Linked DNA regions of Homo sapiens. The protein of the gene in region 1 purifies or fractionates together with the protein of each later gene. This does not show direct contact. Each region holds a gene or a part of one and is shown in the gene's direction. Other genes may lie near its edges.

Region 1 (5,175 bases):
TGAGGTCAGAAGTTCGAGACCAGCCTGACCAGCATGGAGAAACCCTGTCTCTACTAAAAAAACAAAAATTAGCCAGGCGTGGTGGCAGGCACCTGTAATCCCAGCTACTCAGGAAGCTGAGGCAGGAGAATTGCTTGAACTCAGGAGGCAGAGGTTGCACTGAGCCAAGATCATGCCATTGCACCCCAGCCTGGGCCACAGAGTGAGACTGTTGCCGGGTGGAGTGGCTCACACCTGTAATCCCAGCACCTTCGGAGGCCAAGGCAGGCAGATCACTTGAGGTCAGGAGTTCGAGACCAGTCTGACCCACATGGTAAAACCCCGTCTCTACTAAAAATACAAAAATTAGTCAGGCATGGTGATGCTGGCCTGTAATCATAGCTACTCGGGAGGCTTGAGGCAGGAGAATTGCTTGAACCCAGGAGGCGGAGGTTGCAGTAAGCCAAGATCGCACCACTGCACTCCAGGCTGGACGACAGTGAGACTCCGTTCCAAAAAAAAGAAAAAAGAAAAGAAAGCCAGCTGCCCAGCAGAATTGGGGAAAGCCGAGTCAGTTGAAGCAGACAATACCCCTATGGGAGGCAGAAGAATGCACCCCCCTACCAAGATATCCACATCCTAACCCCTCCAAACCTGTATGTTGCCTTAAGTGGCAAAGGGGACTTTGCACATGTGGCTATGTGAAGGATCCTGAGCTGGAGAGATTAGCCTGGATTATCCAGGTGGATCCCATATAATCACAGGGCTCCTTAGAAGGGAGAAGACGCTGTGACCATGGAGGCAGAGGTCGGATTGAGACAGCCAAGGATCACAGGCACCTCTCCAGCCGGGAAAAGCAAGGAACACACTACCCTGGCGCCTCCAGAAGGCACAGCCCCACCCACACCTTGATTCTGGCCCTGTAGGACCCATCTGAGACTTCTGGCCTCCAGGGCTGTAAGATAACACATTTGTGTTAAGCCACTAGGTTTGTGGTGATCTGTTAACAGCGGCATGAGGAAACTAACACAACCCCAAGGAGGTGAGCCTCTCCCCACAGCCCCGACTCAACCGGAAGGGAGAGGTGTGCAGAAGACGGCTTTGCAGGATGTTTGGGACAAATGGTCTCTGGGGGAAGACAGAAGCTAACAGAACTGATTCGACTGTGTGAACAGGGTGCTGGGAGGGCCCACAGGGGAGGGACTTCAGAGCTGGGCCTGCGCCTGCGGGGCCGTACGAGTTGGCCCGGAGCAAGGCGGCCCAGGACAGGCAGGGGCTGCACGCGGTAAGGCTCCCTCTTGCCAGTACCATCCCATGAGCAGCCTCAGAGCCCTCGACCAAGGGAAGTTCTGAGGGCTGAGAGGTTGCTCATTCGTCAGAGCGTGCTGCCCACCCTCCACCCCTGCATGGCAGAAACTGTGCAGGGGACGAGGCCAAGGAATCAGGAGACCCAGAGGCAGGGGTGGCCCGGAGACGGTGGGATGGAGCAGAAGCTCCCCGAAAGGGGTTGGCGGGGTGGATTCGCCCCGCTCCAGCCGGCGGAGGAAGGAAGTGGTTCCCCCGCCCACCCTTCCCTTAGGCTGGCCCGGGGCAGGATTTTTGTGATCCGCGATTCGCTCCCACGGGCGGGACCTTTGTAACTGCGGGAGGCCCAGGACAGGCCCACCCTGCGGGGCGGGAGGCAGCCGGGGTGAGGGAGGTAGGGACGAACGGGTGGACTGACCACAGGCAGGGACAAGGGGACTAAGACCCGGGCCGAGGCCTAGAAGCCCGCCGACCGTTGGGGGTCTGCGGGCTGTGGGGGCGGGGACGGGGGCGGGGGCGGCCCGGGCGGGGGCGGGGCCTGGTACGGTACGGGGCGGGACGGGCTGGGCCGGACCTGCTCTGAGGCTCCCAGTCGCAGCGGTGACCGCGGGCGGGTGGGGCGCCGGGTAAGTGCTCGGGCCGGGCGGGGGGCGTACCCCGTTTGGCGTGCAGCCCTTTCTACAAGACCCCCAGTGCCCGATCCTTCCGAGAAGAGGGGACCCCCCCCCGCATCTCCGCTGTCCAGGCCTCGCCGTGGAGCCCCAGCAGGACCCCAGCCCTCGGTTGCCCTCGGCTCTGGCGTGTCCCGGCGCGGGCGGGCAGTGCTTCCCCTCGGCAGGGACTGGAGTCCAGGGGAGGGGAACGCGGGAGACGCTGGCCCTAGTGACCCCCCGATCCCGGAGAGTTGGTGGTGCGCGCCGCCCTGGGCCAGGTGCCTTCAGTTCTTCACACTCCGCGCAGCAGCCACAGGTGACCATCGTCGTCTCCCTCTTAACAGGTGAAGAAACCAAGACGCAGAGAGGCCAAGCCCCTTGCCTTGGGTCACACAGCCAAAGGAGGCAGAGCCAGAACTCACAACCAGGTCTGTGTCCCCTAAGTCCTCGGATGCATCGTCCCTGCCCCGCTGCCCTCCCGGGAGATTGTAGGAGAGAAGCAGGGGCAGAGGCAGTGCTGGATGTCCCGGGAGAAGGCTGCAATGAGCAGGCCCAGCCATCCCTGAAGGAGGAGCCCCGGGGAAGCAAACTCTTCCCTAGAAACACTTTAAAAGCACCCACCTGTTGGAGACAGAGATGCTGAGGAACAAGAGTGATTGGGGCCAGGGTAAACGCCAAGACAGAGAGGGGAGAGCAGTTCCTCAGTGGAACTCCCTCCAACATTGCCCCCACCACTTTTACCAGTGCTGGGTGTGGGGGATCTTGCAGGCTCAGCTTCGTGACTTGGCCTGTCTCTGCCTCAGTTTCCGCATCTGTCCCATGAGGTTAAGCATGTACCTACCTCGCAGGATTGCTGAGAAGATGATATAAGATGCTTGGTGTACAGGCTTAGCCCCTGGCACCAGGTTACTACCAAAAGTTCATGGTTCCAGTGCTTCCTCCACCCTCCGTCCTGCCCCTCTGAGAGTACTTCTCTGTCCTGGGCACCTTTAACTTCAGGTTGTTCAGGGCTATCTGAGATCTGCAGGATTTCCGGACAGCCCCACCAGCAACTAGGAGCTGCTTGAGTAAGACCAAGGTGAGGGGGTGGCAACTTCTCTGGCTGACTCCCCAGAGGGAAAGGCTGATAAGGGCAGGGTTTTGAAAATCTCTGGGCTGAGGCTTGCACAAGGTCCAGAGCTGCTCTGTGGCCCCTGCCCTCCCCGACACAGGTTTAGCAAGAAGGAGAAAGCCAGAGTGTTCTTGTCCCCAGACTTGATCCTTTGCTAGTCATTGGGGCTTGGGCCCTGGGAGCTGTCATCCACCACCCCGCTCCTCGTCCCTTCCCCACAGTCTAGGCTAGCGACAAGTTCTAACCCAAAGCATATCCTGAATCCGGCCACCCCTCCACCCCCTACTTCCACCCTGAGACCAGGCCGCCAGCATCTCTTGCCGCCTCATCACGCTGGACCCCTCACTTCCATCCAAATCCCCAGCATCGCCTGCCAAGCCCTCTCCATGATCAGGCCCTGTGTGATTATTCTCAATTTTTCTCTCTGGCCACTGTCCTGTCCACTGCTGTCCCCAGCCGCCACCTCCTAAGTACTCCGCTCTCTCAGGGGCTGTGCACAGCACACGTGTTCTTCCTTTTCCCGGGAATGCTCTTCTCTGCAATCTGTGACATACTCCCTTGTAATTCAGGGCACACCATAAATGTCGAGTTGTCCCTGACCACCCCACTTAAGGAGACCCCGCCTGCTCCCTGGCCCCTTACTCTGGCTGGCTGGCTTCCCAGTGCTTAGCTGGGGGGGGGGGGTGTGGTCTGTCTTGTATATTTCCTTGCTTCCTTGTTTGTCTCCCCAGGTAACATGTCAGTCTACCAGGATCGTGATCTTGCCCTTTCCTCTTCACCTTGGATTTCCCAGAACCTGGGAAATCAGTGCCTGGCACCTAGGAATGGCTCAGATAGTTTTGTACAGTTGCAGGCAATGTGTCAGCCATCAGCCTATTTTTCTTCTCACTGCTTGACAGCATTTTTTCTCCCGTTTCTACATAGACTTCAGAATTATCCCTCCCAAGAGCCCACTGCCTTCCTCAGCTTTTCCCTAAAGTAGGGCTTGGGGGTTGAGGGCCACTTCCAGGTTTTAGCCATACTATTCAACTTAGCTATAAATATCATTGTCCATATTGTGCATGTTTTTGGCTATCAAATGGCTTCTTGGAGATACAGTTTCCTAACCAAGGTGTGCAAGTCAAGGGTGGGATCATTTTGGAAGCACTTACCTCTTGTGACCAGGTAGCTATTTAGAAAAATCATCCCCAGGAATGTGTGCACATTTCTCTGCAGCTCTGCAAGCATTGGTTTTTATCCTTTTTATTTGTTTTGGCTAGTTTAATGGAGAAGGGCATGGTAGTTTTAAAGTTTCTGTTGCTTGAATTGCTGAAGCTGAGTGTTCCTCTGCGTGTGTGCTAGTTCTAGCTCCTGTCTTGCAAAGGTAGGAAATCTCCAGGGCACCTTAATTTTTCCCTTCACCTCCTCTTGTGGTGATGGTTCCACTTGAGCCCCTCTCGTGAGAGCAGGTTGAGAATCCCAGGGGGCTGGTATAGGGACATGCAAAGCTGAACTCTGCTGGGTCCAGAAGTTGCTCTGCCAGTCAACCAGCGAGAAAGTCTAAGAGTCCCTTGCACCCTCAGCATGTAACTGTGGGGAGAGAAAGAACCTCTTTAAAGTTTTCTTGAAAGTTTATTTCAAAATAATTTTTTAGAATTAGGCCAGGCACGGTGGCTCATGCCTGTAATTCCAGCACTTTAGGAGGCTGAGGCAACGGATCACTTGAGGTCAGGAGTCTGAGACCAGCCTGGCTAACGTGGCAAAACCCCGTCTCTACTAAAAATACAAAAAAAAATTTTAGCTGGGCGTGGTGGTGGGCACTTATAATCCCAGCTACTCAGGAGGCTGAAGCAGGAGAATCGCTTGAACCTGGGAGACAGAGGTTGCAGTGAGCCGAGATCATACCACTGCATTCCAGCCTAGGCAACAGAACGAGACTCTGTCTCAGGGGAAAAAAAAAATTATAGAAGTTACATAGAGGGATCAGGTGCAATGGCTCATGCCTATTATACTAACACCATGGGAGGCTGAGGCAGGAGGATCACTTGAACTCAGGAGTTTGAGACCAGCCTGGATAACATAGTGAGACCCCCCTTTCTACAAAAATTAGCTGGACTTGGTAGTGTGTGCCTATAGTCCCAGCTACTC
Region 2 (4,634 bases), on another chromosome or scaffold:
ATATTTATCAGGGAAGTTTCCTTTAATATTTCTAGCTCATTGTGATTTTTGCAGAGAACTGTTTGGATTGCATCCAAAGTCATTTTTGCAACTGGGGATGGGGAGTGTCTATTGTATTAGATAGCACTTTGAGAACAATTTTAAATAATAGATATTGGATGTTCATTTGGTGTGTATATTCATTACTTCTTAACATTTTTATCAGGAATGGAAGTTGGATTTTGTCAAATGGCTTTTTGACATCTATCATAACCTTTCATAGGTACTTTTCATCTTTGACCTAACAGGATAGTGAATTACTTTAGTATATTTGCAGTTTGTGAACCAATCTTACGCTTGGTCATGGTGTAATATTTAAGTATATATTGGTTCCTTTGGTAGCATTTTTATTTAAAATCAATGATTGAGATTCATTTTATACTCACCTTTTTCTGTTATTTTTGCTAGGTTTTGGTATCAAGGTTATGCTGGTTCCTAAAAAGAACTGGGCAGAGTTCCTCTTCCTCCGCTCTGATGTAGTTTAAATAGCCTAAGAACTCTGCTCTTTGAAGATCTGAAAGAATTCACTCATGAAACCATGTGGGTCTGGGAGTTCATTGTTCTTAAGACAGCAACAATACTCAGCAAAATGGTTCAGAACAAACAAAAACTCCTTGGAGTAAATACAATTGAATGAAAGAGTCTGGGACACGGTAATGTCAAGAACTAAGAACAGCTGCTGTACTGATGCTGGTTATTTCCCCCCTACACACAACTTTTTTTTCATGGACAAGGAAAAATGCTGTAGGTAGGCTGAGGCTGTTAAGTAAAATGTCTTGCTATTCTTTCTCTTCTCTTCTTCAGTTATGTTACAGAAGCAAGGGTATTGCTTCTACATGGGCAAATTTGTCTATGCCCTGAAAGAAACCAAGAGTGAAACTCAACTGGGAAAGCATCAGTTTCACTTTATTGTCACTAGCTTCCCAATTTTGCCGGGAAATTTCTTAATTTAAAGGTAATAACCAAGCTGACATTTTACTGTAGCCAAATCCTACAGAGGGTTTCAAAATGAGTGGGTGAAAAAATATACAAGCTTAACATGCTTATACTTATTTAACATGAAGTGAAAATCATTAGCATAGTTCAGGTATGTGCATGGTATGTGCACGCACATGGGGCAGTGCTGTCATCTAACAGAAGCCCACCTTTTTACTTGACTAATGGTTTACTGTTAATACCTCGATAATAGTGTAATCTTTGATAGACTTTTATAAATGATTATTTCAAATGCTTTTTGATCACCTTCAAGAATATGACCTGAGACAGGTAATGTAATTTAGCAGTTTGCATCTATGAACTGTGGAGGATACCTACAGACACTGAAGCGTTACTAACAGTAGGATGCAGGCATTATGTGAATGCGTGGGTATTTTATTTCCATTTATGGGCTACTATAGCAAAAATAATTGGGGAGTTGCCCTATGATGAAAGAAGACTGCATGTTTTTTAAAACCATACCTTTGTCCAAAAGCAAATGGTAAATAAAAATAGACTGTTGACATAAAGCTTCGCTATTTCGATGCTATGCATTAGCTGATTGACTGTTACTGTTTATCCTTTTTGTTTTCTAACACCTTATAAGCATAAAATATTACTGTTTAATTGCAGTTCGTTTGTGTTCAGTTACGTAAAGCCTAGTTTTAGTTTCTATTTCCTGTAGGATTTATGCTGTGGCTGCCATTTCCCACCTGTTATCTCCTATGCTTGCTGCCATGGTTTTGAATCATAAATACAGGGAAAGAGGAGGCTATTATTTAGATATGTAACAAAAATCGCTTTATAGTTCGGAACCAAGATTATGATTATCTTCAGGAAGGGATAACAGAATATGAAATGAACTACCTTTTCAGTGAGTTGTTAATTAATTTTCAAAGTCTTTTGAACTAAGTGCAGTATTTGGTCACTGTTCAAATAAGTTGAGGGTAACTGGTACCAAGCCCTATGCAACTGAAAACAGGCTTTGGGACTTATGTAGTACATGTGTCACATTTTCCAATTCCTAATCTATAAAAGCTTTTTAAATTGTGGTAAAATTCACATAACATAAAATTTACCATCTTAACCTTTTTTTAAAGTATATGGTTCAATAATGTTAAGTGCATTCACATTGCTATGCAACCAAGAAAAACATTTTTAAAGGGACGTATTTTTCTTAAGGAAAAGAGTTTGGGAAGTAAATGATGGCAATTGTTTGTCTCATGGAAAATTTCCTGGACAGTAACTTTTTACCTTCAGAGATATATTCTCTATAAATGGTAATTATCAGTAGTAAGTTATGAGAGTAAACATTTTGAGTACTAGTGATCTATAATAGCTTTTACTTAACACCAATACTTTTTTTTTTTTTTTTTTTTTGCAAAAGGAAGGGTCTACTGAAAATAGGTTGCTAACATTGACAACAAAGTATTTTAAGTCATTGCAGTAAGGAATTACTGGAAATTGAGTAGACAAAGAAAATTAATATGAGTTCCATTTTGATGGTTACTTAGCAAGTTGAACTTATGAGAGTCTTTGAAATAGTTGCAGTATGAGAATTGTTCTATTGAACAGCGAAACAACCCAATCAGGTAATAGTTTTTCCAGAGAGTGACTTGCTATAAGGGACAGAAGTTAGAGACTTAGATTCTTTCAAAATAAAGGATTTTTTTTAATTGCTTGAAGAAGGATTTTTGGAATCAGCAAATCAACTGTTATTGTGAGAGATTTAAGTGGTTTTACTATTCACAACCATTTATTATGTGGCATTTACTGGAATGTGGTTTCATAACCTCAAGTATTTGGAATCCCAAAAGTAGAAATGCCTTTCCCTTGAGATTGTTGTTTCTCAACCTTTAAAAATCCATATTTCCTTTCTGATAAACATTAAAATCTCACAAATCCTAGAGGATTGTAATACATGTTCCTTCCCATACAGTCCTACTCCTCCTCTACACCTCACCATACTGACTACAGACTTTCTCTTCTAGTTCCCTCATCTGTGAATATTATGCAAAGTCCTTCTTTATATGATTTATGTAATAGATTTTTAATATTAACTATTTCAAAATTGTATATCCTTCCTCCCCCATCTTCAGATTCTAACATTGCCCCTAGTCAGAGGAGAGGATACCCCTTAAAGATTACTCAGTTCAGCACAGCCAACTGAGCAGTGCCATGTTTACGTTCACCTCAGAGGAGTAGAACATCACATGCCTGCTTTCCCTTTTGGTGTTATACTGTTTAGTTGTGCACTTAAACCCATAACATTTGATAAATAGTCTCAGAGAAAGAAGTATTACTGGAGAAAAAAAGGAAGTAAGGCAAAACTGAGACTCATGGGTGTGGTCTTTGACAGTGAAATCTTTTAGCTCTTGCAAGATCACATAGAAAATTTCACCAAGTTCTAACATCCAGCAAAATGGAGAACATGTACTGGGGACCTTTGGGTTTAACCAGTGAGACTGTCTTGTTTATCCTGTTGCATTTAGCCTTCCAGCTTATGGAAAAATACAAAATTCAAATTCTAACACTGCTGGATTTATGATATTTAAGGTTTCTATTATATCAGCTGCCTGGATGGAGCACAGAAACAGCGTAGTACAATATGCTATGGGTATATTCATGACCAAAGTTTACAATGTGGAAGGAGAATAGAAATGCAAGAGGTCAGTTGGGGAATTAGCTGCTTGTGTTATATAACTCCTTAAAAGTGGAAAATGATCACAAGTAAATGTGAGTAGTGACAGTTCTCTTCCATTTCCTTTCTTCAGGTAAGGAAAACACACTTAATATTTTTGAGTGTCTTTAAAGATCTTCCTAACCATCCAAAAGAGAAGATGTCTTATTTATGTGTATATGTCGTGTTGTTGACTGATTTTTTTGCTTTTTACTCCTGATGTGTTTTGTGGGTGAGAAGGCAAGCATGTAACTAAGATACAGAAAAGACCAAGATGTAGTGGGGCACAGTGGCTTGACGCCTATAATCTCAACTACTCAGAAGGCTGAGGTGGAAGGATTGCTTGAGGCGAGGAGTCCAGGCTGCAGTGGGCTATGATTGCACCGCCACACTTGCTGCACTCTACCCTTGGGGGACAGAGTGAAGCTCTGTCTCAAAAAAAAAACAAAAAACAAAACAAAAACACAGAATTTGTCTTTCATTCACTGATTCACCTCTTTATGTACTACAGTGGCAACTTTTCTGAAATAGAATATGAACTCCTCTTATTCATAGCCCAAGGGGTTGGGAAAGGCTGGTGGCTTTCTTTTCTAGGGCAAAGTGGAAGGAGTAGCAGTTATTCAAGGTGGTTTCCTTTCCCCATCCTGAAACTGCTTTAGATTTGAGTTGGTCTCTCACCACAAGTGTGAACTCTGGCAGAACATTTACCCAGAAACAGAATAGGCTCAGCAGTTGGGGAAACCCAGCAGAGGGGCCTTGCCTGCCTCCCAAATTACTCACACTTGTCTCAACCACCTACAAAAAAGTAGACCTTACTAAAGAATGACTAATCATCCTGGGGTCAAGATGGCGAAAATCCTACCTTTAAGCCTTTGATTCTCTTCAAACGTGGAATTCCAATGTATATATACATAACTGATCAAAGCTCAGATGTTCTGGT
Region 3 (5,204 bases), on another chromosome or scaffold:
CCATTAGATCAATAGCCTAACTCCCAGGGATTGGTGCCCCTTTTGCAATGACCAGAGGCTCCCTATCTTCATCTCCATAGATCAATGGTCTTATCCCCAAAGATCAATAGCCCAGCCTCCAAGAATCAGTAACCATGTCTTCACTAACTCATAGTTAGTGACCATAATCACTTACCAATAGTCTCATCTCCCCTGGTCTGTGACCTTATCCTTACTGATTATTCCCATGGATTAATAGATTCATCCCACTGATCAATAGTCCTACCTTATGGATTAATACACCCATGTCTATGTCCCCACTGATCTTTCTTTTTTCTTTCTTTTTTTTCTTTTTTCTTTCTTTTTGAGATGGAGTCTCGCTCTGTTGCCCAGGCTGGAGTGCAGTGGCATAATCTCAGCTCACTGCAACCTCTGCCTCCCAGGTTCAAGCGATTCTCCTGCCTCAGCCTCCCGAGTAGCTGAGACTACAGGCACCTGCCACCACACCTGGCTAATTTTTGTATTTTTAGTAAGGATGGGGTTTCACCATATTTGTCAGGCTGGTCTTGAACTCCTGACCTCGTGATCTGCCAGCCTCGGCCTCCCAAAGTGCTGGGATTACAGGTGTGAGCCACTGCGCCCAGCCTGACCATTCTTAATGTATTAATAGACCAATGTCCCACCTCCATGGAACAATGGCCTCATCTCCAAAAATCAATTACTCAGTCCCCTAATATCATTGGCTTTACCTTCACTGACCAGTAGTATCCTCATGCACAAGTGGCCAATGGCCTCCCCTCCACAGGTTAATAGTTCCAACTCCGTATATCAATGAACCCCCCTCCCACATCTCCTCTGAACAGTCTGAGCAAGATAAGCTCCAGGCCCACTGACCATTAGCTCTGTTCCTAAGGATGAATGGTCCCAAATCCCCTAAGCAATATCCCATCCCCTCTGTTGAGTGATGTCACATCCATTGACAAGTGCCCTAATCTCTGACCAATAGCCCAAGAGTCAATGTTCCCACCTCTTAAAGAACCACAACCACACCCCAGTGCCCAGTAGCCAGGCATCACCCACCCATGGTCCCCATCCCTCCCCATCTTCTCAAGCCTCTGTCCAACTCTTGCTCCCAGAACTTCATTCTCATACCTCTAGCTCTGAAGTGTGCAGCTGGGTCTTACCCAGCAACTTTCCCACCACCAGAGAGTCTGGGTGACCAGAAGCCCTTCCCACTTTCTAGATTTGGCCGTCGCGGGATTGTGCTGCTGACCTTGGGGCTGGTGGGCCCCTGTGGAGTAGGAGGGGCTGCTGCAGGCTCCTCCACAGGCGTCATGGCCCTCCGATTCCTCTTGGGCTTTCTGCTTGCCGGTGTTGACCTGGGTGTCTACCTGATGCGTAAGTGGCACCCTCCCAGAATTCCCTCCCTTGGGTCTCATGCCTACCTGCCTGCATCGCCAGGCCATCCTCACTGCCCCCTAGGCCACATTTCAGCTGCCTAGAATCTCAGCTATCTTTCTGCCCAGGCCCCCTTGAAGAATCCAGGGCTCTTGCTTCTCTCTACACCTATCTCCCCCTCCCGACAATCTTTAAAGTCTTTGTCCTGGACTTACTGCTGCCAAGGAATAAGGTGCTATTCCCCTGATAGCAGTAAGTCCAGGGACAAGGATTGTCCCTAGCTGTGTGACCTTGGACAAGGGTTGATGTGAAGGTCAAATAAGAGGCCTGATGGGAAAGGGCCTATAAATTGGAAATGTTGAACACTCACCCAGGACTCTGGCCCTAGAGCCCTCCTAGGTTTGAGCAGGAGAGGAGAGAGGGCTGAACAGTCTCCCCAGTCCTTGCCACCCAGAGGTTAGCAAGGGAGGCAATGGCTGCAGCCTCCACTCTGGGTCTGACCTCTCTCTCTGTCCTCCTCCCTCCCTCTTTCTTCTTCTCTCTTATGCCTTCTTCCTCCCTGGCCTCCCTCTCCTCTCTCCACCCCTGCTGTATCTCCAGGCCTGGAGCTGTGCGACCCAACCCAGAGGCTTCGGGTGGCCCTGGCAGGGGAGTTGGTGGGGGTGGGAGGGCACTTCCTGTTCCTGGGCCTGGCCCTTGTCTCTAAGGATTGGCGATTCCTACAGCGAATGATCACCGCTCCCTGCATCCTCTTCCTGTTTTATGGGTCAGTATTACCCTTCACCTGTCGTCTGGCAATTCCCATCTCTGCCTCCAAACTAGCCCTAGCCCGGAGACCCCTCCTCTTCTCCAACTACCCCTGGTCCAGGCCTACCCCAGCCCCAGTCCCTCAGAGGTGCACATTTCCCACCCCTAGATCAGGAGAAGGGAGGCCTCACAGTATACCCCTTCCCCCCTGCCCCCAGCTGGCCTGGTTTGTTCCTGGAGTCCGCACGGTGGCTGATAGTGAAGCGGCAGATTGAGGAGGCTCAGTCTGTGCTGAGGATCCTGGCTGAGCGAAACCGGCCCCATGGGCAGATGCTGGGGGAGGAGGCCCAGGAGGCCCTGCAGGGTAAGAGACAGGGATCCCTGTGAGTGTTGCCTCACTTGCACACATGATGGTGCCCTCTGCATGGCTGTAGCTGTGCCACCTTCTCCCAGGGTCCCCACCACCCATGTGGGAGGATCCTGGGATCTCAGGGTTTTCTTCTGACAGCTCCTCTCTCTCTCCCAAAGACCTGGAGAATACCTGCCCTCTCCCTGCAACATCCTCCTTTTCCTTTGCTTCCCTCCTCAACTACCGCAACATCTGGAAAAATCTGCTTATCCTGGGCTTCACCAAGTGAGCCTGGGTGTCTGGGCTGAGGGCCAGGCCAGTAGCTGGAATGGGGGCTGGCTGGGTGGGAAGGCCCGGGGACCCCTGCGGAGGACCATCAGCACTGTAGAAGGCTGCGGGAGGGGATTCAGGCTCTGTTCGTTGCTTCCCCACCCCTTCTCACAGCTTCATTGCCCATGCCATTCGCCACTGCTACCAGCCTGTGGGAGGAGGAGGGAGCCCATCGGACTTCTACCTGTGCTCTCTGCTGGCCAGCGGCACCGCAGCCCTGGCCTGTGTCTTCCTGGGGGTCACCGTGGACCGATTTGGCCGCCGGGGCATCCTTCTTCTCTCCATGACCCTTACCGGCATTGCTTCCCTGGTCCTGCTGGGCCTGTGGGATTGTGAGCATCCTATCTTCCCCACAGTGTGGGCTCAACAAGGGAACCCCAACAGAGGTGCTTCAGACAGGCACAGCCATTTCTTCTGGCACAGGCCTCCCAAGACAAGCCCCAGACCCTGCCCAGCTCTTCCACGAGCCTCCACCTGGCCCCACAGCCCCATCTGCTCTCCCAGTCAATTACTGAATGCCCAGAGCCTGCCCAGCTAGAGCCATGGGAACAGAGAGCCAAGGGGATGACACCCGGGACTAGGCCAGCCTTGACCTCCCCACCTGCATTCATATCATCCCTCTTGCTTCTGCAGATCTGAACGAGGCTGCCATCACCACTTTCTCTGTCCTTGGGCTCTTCTCCTCCCAAGCTGCCGCCATCCTCAGCACCCTCCTTGCTGCTGAGGTCATCCCCACCACTGTCCGGTGAGAGCAGGGGTGCCCCCAGGGGCAGAGCCGGGCCCCCTCGCCTCCCGCTCCCCCACCCCACCCCTGAGGACAGGGCCTGCGGGCTGGAGGAGGGGGGCTGCGGGAGAAGGGCCCAGCAAGGCTACAGCTGTGGGCTGAGCTCCTCCTCTGTCTCCCCCCAGGGGCCGTGGCCTGGGCCTGATCATGGCTCTAGGGGCGCTTGGAGGACTGAGCGGCCCGGCCCAGCGCCTCCACATGGGCCATGGAGCCTTCCTGCAGCACGTGGTGCTGGCGGCCTGCGCCCTCCTCTGCATTCTCAGCATTATGCTGCTGCCGGAGACCAAGCGCAAGCTCCTGCCCGAGGTGCTCCGGGACGGGGAGCTGTGTCGCCGGCCTTCCCTGCTGCGGCAGCCACCCCCTACCCGCTGTGACCACGTCCCGCTGCTTGCCACCCCCAACCCTGCCCTCTGAGCGGCCTCTGAGTACCCTGGCGGGAGGCTGGCCCACACAGAAAGGTGGCAAGAAGATCGGGAAGACTGAGTAGGGAAGGCAGGGCTGCCCAGAAGTCTCAGAGGCACCTCACGCCAGCCATCGCGGAGAGCTCAGAGGGCCGTCCCCACCCTGCCTCCTCCCTGCTGCTTTGCATTCACTTCCTTGGCCAGAGTCAGGGGACAGGGAGAGAGCTCCACACTGTAACCACTGGGTCTGGGCTCCATCCTGCGCCCAAAGACATCCACCCAGACCTCATTATTTCTTGCTCTATCATTCTGTTTCAATAAAGACATTTGGAATAAACGAGCATATCATAGCCTGGACTTCCCTCCCTTCTGTTTGTCCTTCTATCTCTTGGGGGAAGGTTTTTCTCAGTGGAATGCACACCGATAACAAGCTCCCCTCTCCCTCCTTGTGCCCTGCCCCCAGTGGTGACTTACAGACAACTGTCACCACTTACTGACTGCTTGCACTGCTGCCAGAACTGGCCTAAGCACTTGACACACTTCGTATCATTTAATTTTTACAGCATTGCAAGGTAGGTGTTTGGATCAATTAGGGGTTGTTGTTGTTGTTGTTGTTGTTGTTTGTTGTTGTAAGCAATAAAAACTGGCTCTAATGAACTTAAGCAAAAAGGGAATTATTCGATTTGGTGGGGCAGGTTGTGGTGGGAGCTCACAGAATGAAGGAGAAGCAGAACTCGTCGTAAAATAACTAGTCAGGAGCGGAGAAGGCTCCTTGTCTGAGGAGCAAAAACCAGCAACATTTTTGTCAGGGCTTCTTCTAGATGAATGAGCTCCAGTGCAATTTAATCTTTGGGTTATCCCACTGAAGATTAATTTCCAGAGAGCATGTCACTGGCTAGCTAGAGTAACATGCCTCCCACACCCCTATTTCTCCCAACTGGGAATAGGTAAAGCAAAATTTGGGCACTGTTAGCAGAAGCGGGACTGGGTGTCACTCAGAAAAAAACAATGGAAGCTCAGTACAGCATTCTTATTCTCTTAAACAAGATGAGAAAACTTATGGTCAGAGAGACTCAGTAACTGGCCCAAGGTTACAAAGCTAATGAGTGGCAAAGCTGAGACATGATTAGATCCCAGAGAGCTCTTCATGGATGCATACTGTAGTCACCTTCCCAACTCTTCTAACTTTTGGGCACATTCCTTGGAAGGCAAGAGT
Region 4 (4,634 bases), on another chromosome or scaffold:
TGTGGGGAGATCATACCATTATTACACTTAAATGTCATTATTCTTAACGTTCTTATAAATGTATATTAAAATTTAAGTTAATAATTTATAGTTTGGTTAACTTTTTATATGACTTTTTGTACTAAAGTATTGTAGACTATATTGATCTATCCAGGAATTTTATTTTAAATGAGACGAAATTAAAGAGTAAGGAATCTTAAATTGTTATGGTCACTCCATGGATTTGTACTATAAGGATCTTAGAGATAGGGAAAGAAGAAAGTTCTGAATTCAAAATTTATTCAGTCTTCTAATTATTCATAACTTAAAATTTTGCTGATTATGATTATATTGGTCTATTACAACTGTGTAATGTGCTGTTAATTCTAAGAATGTAAAAATAAATTTTAATTTTATCTTCTAGCTTGCAAATGTCCTTGAGATTGACTTATCCCTGGTTAAGGTATGTTATTTTTATACTCATTTACTGGTGATGTGATAACTGAGTGGATTTTACTAGTAGATTTTTATCTTGATAAGCTACTGAGAAACGAAGACATTGAGATTGTTGTTAGCTGTCTGAGAGAACGTGCACAGTAAAGGGGCACTTGCAAAGACAGGAAAGAGCAGGAAAAGGGGCCCTAAATTGGGATTCAAACACATGGACTGAAAAGAGAGCACTCATGCAAGAAGCAGCCCAAGCAGTATCTTGTAGTGAGGTCCGTTAAAGCAACAACTCCTGCTTCATTAGGGGTAGATGTAGGGAGGGCAAGGCCAGAGAGTTGGAAACATTCCCTCCTATACATTTATGAAGACTTCAAGGGAGGAGCAGGTCTACTGAAAATAGTTTCTGGTTACGGGATGAAAATGTTTGAGAATCACTATTAGTCTATTACACTATTTTTTCTCTACAAATATTGTGATGTCTAGTTTATTTTAAATGGTAATTAGTTTCCTTTATATTCCTTTCAGAATGCTGTTTCAATGTATTGCCGATTGGGCTTTGCCCATAAGAAGGGACAAGTAATTAATTTGGATCAACTTCATTCATCATGGAAGAATGTTCCATCCGTAAACAGATTAAAGTAACTTAAATTTATTCAGTATGAGCTATTAGAGTTTCCTTTTGAAAAGACATTTAATTTTACATACATAAATTTATTTATTTATTTATTTATTGAGACAAAGTCTCTCTCTGTCATCCAGGCTGGAGTGCGGTGGCGCGATCTCGGCTCACTGCAACCTCCACCTCCCCGTTTCAAGCGATTTTCATGCCTCAGCCTCCTGAGTAGTGGGGACTATAGGTGTGCACCACCATGCCCAGCTAATTTTTTGTGTTTCTGTTAGAGGTGGGGTTTCACCATGTTAGCCAGGCTGGTGTCGAACTCCTGGCCCCAACTGATCCACCCACCTTGGCCTTCCAAAGTGTTGGGATTGCAGGTGTGAGCCACTGCACCTGGCCCAGAAATTTTATTTATTCAACCTGTCAGTTGAGGTGAGCCCTTTATATTAGTGATTTTTAATCTTGTGTGTGTGTTACAGATCTTTTTTGGAATATAATGAAAACTAAGAAGGCTTTTCCCAGAAAAAAAGCAAATAAATATTTTACATAAAATCTTGAAGGGTTCTTGAATTTTCTGAAGCCTATCCGTGGATCTTAGTTAAGAACCCTTGTTGTATGTAGGCAGAGCATTTTTGGGCTGCGACTTAATTTTGGGCTTGAATATAAGACTGAATTTTGATGGATTGTTCATAATTTAAGTCTTAACTTCAGTAGATATTTTAATGTAAGGTCATTTATATGATTTTTAAAAAGCAAATGCATTCTTCATTAATAGGAGTACCTTAGATCCACAGAAGATGCTCTTGTCATGGGATGGAGGGGAAAGTAGGAGTCCTGTACAAGAAGCTTCATCGGCAACTGACACTGATACAAATAGTCAAGAAGATCCAGGTTAGCAGTAACTCAGTTTAACATAGAGTCTGTCTGTAGGTACGGCACATGTCCAAACATACACTCTTACAGTTACCTTCTAATTTTAGTTTAGATTTTATTCAATACGCAGTCTTTGAGTGTTTTACTATATTTTGGGCACTGTGCTAAGTCCTAGGTATATAAAACTGACAAGAATATGGTACCTTTCTTCTAAGAATTAAGTCTAAGGAGAGAGAAGGGAATGTGACCAAACAAATTACAACAACACGGGCACCAATTATAATGCTTGTAGGGTGCAAAGAGGAAGAGACCCTTAATTGGCTAGAGAGGTTTGGGAAGCCTTCACAGAGAAGATGTTATTTGAGCTAAGAATGAAGAAGAGCCTGCCAGCTGGTCAGGGAAGGAAAGCCATTTCAGCCCGAGAGAATAGTGAGGCTAAGCCCAAAGGGAAACACAGCATAGTGGACAAGGCCTAGGGTTAAATGCTTTTTAATATTCTTTGCGCTTCAAAATAGGTATGGCTGGAACTTCTTATGGCTATAATAGTGCCTTTTTAAAATTATGTACTTTCTGGTTATCAAATAAAGCTGAAATGAAATACTTTCACTCCAAATGGTAAGCAAAGAATAATTTCCATTTACTTGATTTTAAATTATGGTGTTTTTCAGCTGACACAGCCAGTGTAAGCAGCCTGAGTCTGTCTACAGGACACACGAAGCGCATCGCATTCCTGTTTGACTCCACTCTTACTGCCTTCTTAATGATGGGAAATCTTTCACCAGTAAGCCCAATTCTTGTTTAAATATGAAGGTGTTTAAAATAAATACTAGATATAAAATAATTTAATGCTTTTATATCTTTTTTAAAGTACTACATTTATTCCCGAAGCACAACTGACTTAGAGGAGTATAATAACTTTCAGGGAAGGTCCTTTTGTAATTGGAAGAATTAGCCCCTCACCCCCCAATCCTTAAGTTTAAATATATTTGAAAGGATAATATAAATATTTGATAGTATGCTTAGCATAAAAAGGGAGAAGTAGAACTTTAATATTTTGTTTCTTTTTTTCAGAACTTGAAAAGTCATGCAGTCACAATGTTTGAAGTAGGCAAACTCTCAGATGAGTCTCTGGACAGCTTTCTTATAGAACTAGAAAAGGTAAATGTAGATTGCATGTAAGGGGATGTTAGGGCATTTGGAATCTGTCCTTGCTTGACAGAATGCCAATTATACAGTCTGTTGATTTGGATGGGCTTTCAGTGTATTCTTGCTCGTTCCTACCTCATTCCCCAAATTAGTACTCTTACAGTCATTTAGACTTAAACATATTGAGTGGGTGAATTGATTTTGTGATTTTTAAAGTGATATGTCTACCTCATCTAATTCTTAACATAATTTGAGATAATGAAGAAATGGGGTATAGAAATTTTAGTCTGTAATGTTTTAAGTTGAATTTTTGCTAAAATAGCCTTTCAATTTTTTTTCTGGTATGACTCTCTAAGATCACCTCTTAAGCAGTTTGATTTGAAGTTTTTGTTCCATTTACCTTGAATCTGGAACAATATCCCTGGGTATCATATTTATGTCCGCTCTCACTATCCCTTTTAGCATCTTGAAGACTTCAGCCATATTTGCTCTTAACCACCTTTTTCCCCGTGAGTACAGCCCTAGTTTTCCTTAGCTCTAAATAAATCTGATTGCCCTTTATTGGTGTTTTTCATTCTTCGGATATTTTATTCTGGCCTCTTTGTATTCAAATAGTTTGTGTGCCTAATCTGTTCCTTGACTAATACTTTTCGTGCCTTTTGTGCTTTATGATGAACTTTGTATTTTCAATGCACTGTTTAGAGAATTTGTGGTGATTCTGCAACTCCTTTATATCTTAAAAAAAAAAGACTGTAACATTTTTCACTGCTCCTACTCCATAGGATTTTTACTTTTATTAGTGCAGAAATATGTGTGAGATAATCCTTTGCTATTAATTGGTCTCTTTTACTTTTACCTTTATACTGCCATTTATTTCTTCATGCTTCTTTATTTGTTAACCCCATTTCTTATTGTATATTATCTTCTACTAATAAATTTCTTACTATGTTACTGCACATTTCAAGTTCTGGTTTTCTGATTTTTATCTTTTTTTCACCTCAGCTAGTCTTTTATCAAATGTAGCAAATTGCAAGTTGACTTCTGCTCTTTTACTCATAAATCTATGTTCTTTTTCATCACAAAGTCATTCTTGGGAAAGCCTTTCAGTCTGAGGCTTAGTTTTTAAAGTGGATTCTTAGCTATTTTTTAAGTAGTTTGATCTTAAGATTGATTTCTTAAATGTATGCAAATCTGATTTAGTTATTTTCCCGTTGGTAGACCTATCATTCCATTTTCTGTGTTGTTTCTGGGATATATGTCTCTACTTATTAAAAGGTGACTTATTCAGACTTATTCAGAAGAGCATACATTAAACTATAAGGCCAGTGAAGGCAGGGGTTTTGTCCATTACTCTATCCTTATCTCCTAGGGAGGTCATAGTCCATAGGAGGCACTAAGTAAATCTTTGTTGAGTGAATTTAAGCTGTGTGTTCAGCAATGGTGAACAGCTATGTTGAATCACAGACTCCAGTGTCTCTTGTAACTGGTAATACAGAATTGTGAACAAAGTTATGAGAATTATAGGTAAAACTGGTGACCTTGGAGTACTTTCCTAGATGGAGCAGAATACGGG

What was found. The genes of interacting proteins can lie anywhere in the genome.
Region 2: the proteins of HVCN1 (region 1) and TANK purify together in Homo sapiens (affinity purification with mass spectrometry; one large-scale study listed by BioGRID and IntAct). This does not show direct contact.
Region 3: the proteins of HVCN1 (region 1) and SLC22A17 fractionate together in Homo sapiens (co-fractionation; one large-scale study listed by BioGRID). This does not show direct contact.
Region 4: the proteins of HVCN1 (region 1) and FAM91A1 purify together in Homo sapiens (affinity purification with mass spectrometry; one large-scale study listed by BioGRID and IntAct). This does not show direct contact.

Annotation. Positions count from the first base shown.
Region 1 is NC_000012.12:110,685,815-110,690,989, reverse strand, and holds the start of HVCN1 (voltage-gated hydrogen channel 1), read left to right. Parts: upstream 1-1,874; 5' UTR 1,875-1,910; exon of another isoform or gene 1,911-2,194; intron 2,195-2,281; 5' UTR 2,282-2,365; intron 2,366-5,175.
Region 2 is NC_000002.12:161,162,667-161,167,300, forward strand, and holds part of TANK (TRAF family member-associated NF-kappa-B activator), read left to right. Parts: exon of another isoform or gene 1-695; coding exon of another isoform or gene 696-787; intron 788-4,634.
Region 3 is NC_000014.9:23,345,445-23,350,648, reverse strand, and holds the end of SLC22A17 (solute carrier family 22 member 17), read left to right. Parts: intron 1-1,222; coding exon 1,223-1,377; intron 1,378-1,977; coding exon 1,978-2,143; intron 2,144-2,342; coding exon 2,343-2,488; intron 2,489-2,652; coding exon 2,653-2,758; intron 2,759-2,917; coding exon 2,918-3,135; coding exon of another isoform or gene 3,136-3,189; intron 3,190-3,436; coding exon 3,437-3,548; intron 3,549-3,712; coding exon 3,713-4,001; 3' UTR 4,002-4,331; downstream 4,332-5,204. UniProt on the Homo sapiens protein: Cell surface receptor for LCN2 (24p3) that plays a key role in iron homeostasis and transport.
Region 4 is NC_000008.11:123,784,678-123,789,311, forward strand, and holds part of FAM91A1 (protein FAM91A1), read left to right. Parts: intron 1-403; coding exon 404-442; intron 443-951; coding exon 952-1,064; intron 1,065-1,817; coding exon 1,818-1,933; intron 1,934-2,583; coding exon 2,584-2,696; intron 2,697-2,986; coding exon 2,987-3,073; intron 3,074-3,523; coding exon of another isoform or gene 3,524-3,556; exon of another isoform or gene 3,557-3,570; intron 3,571-4,634. UniProt on the Homo sapiens protein: As component of the WDR11 complex acts together with TBC1D23 to facilitate the golgin-mediated capture of vesicles generated using AP-1.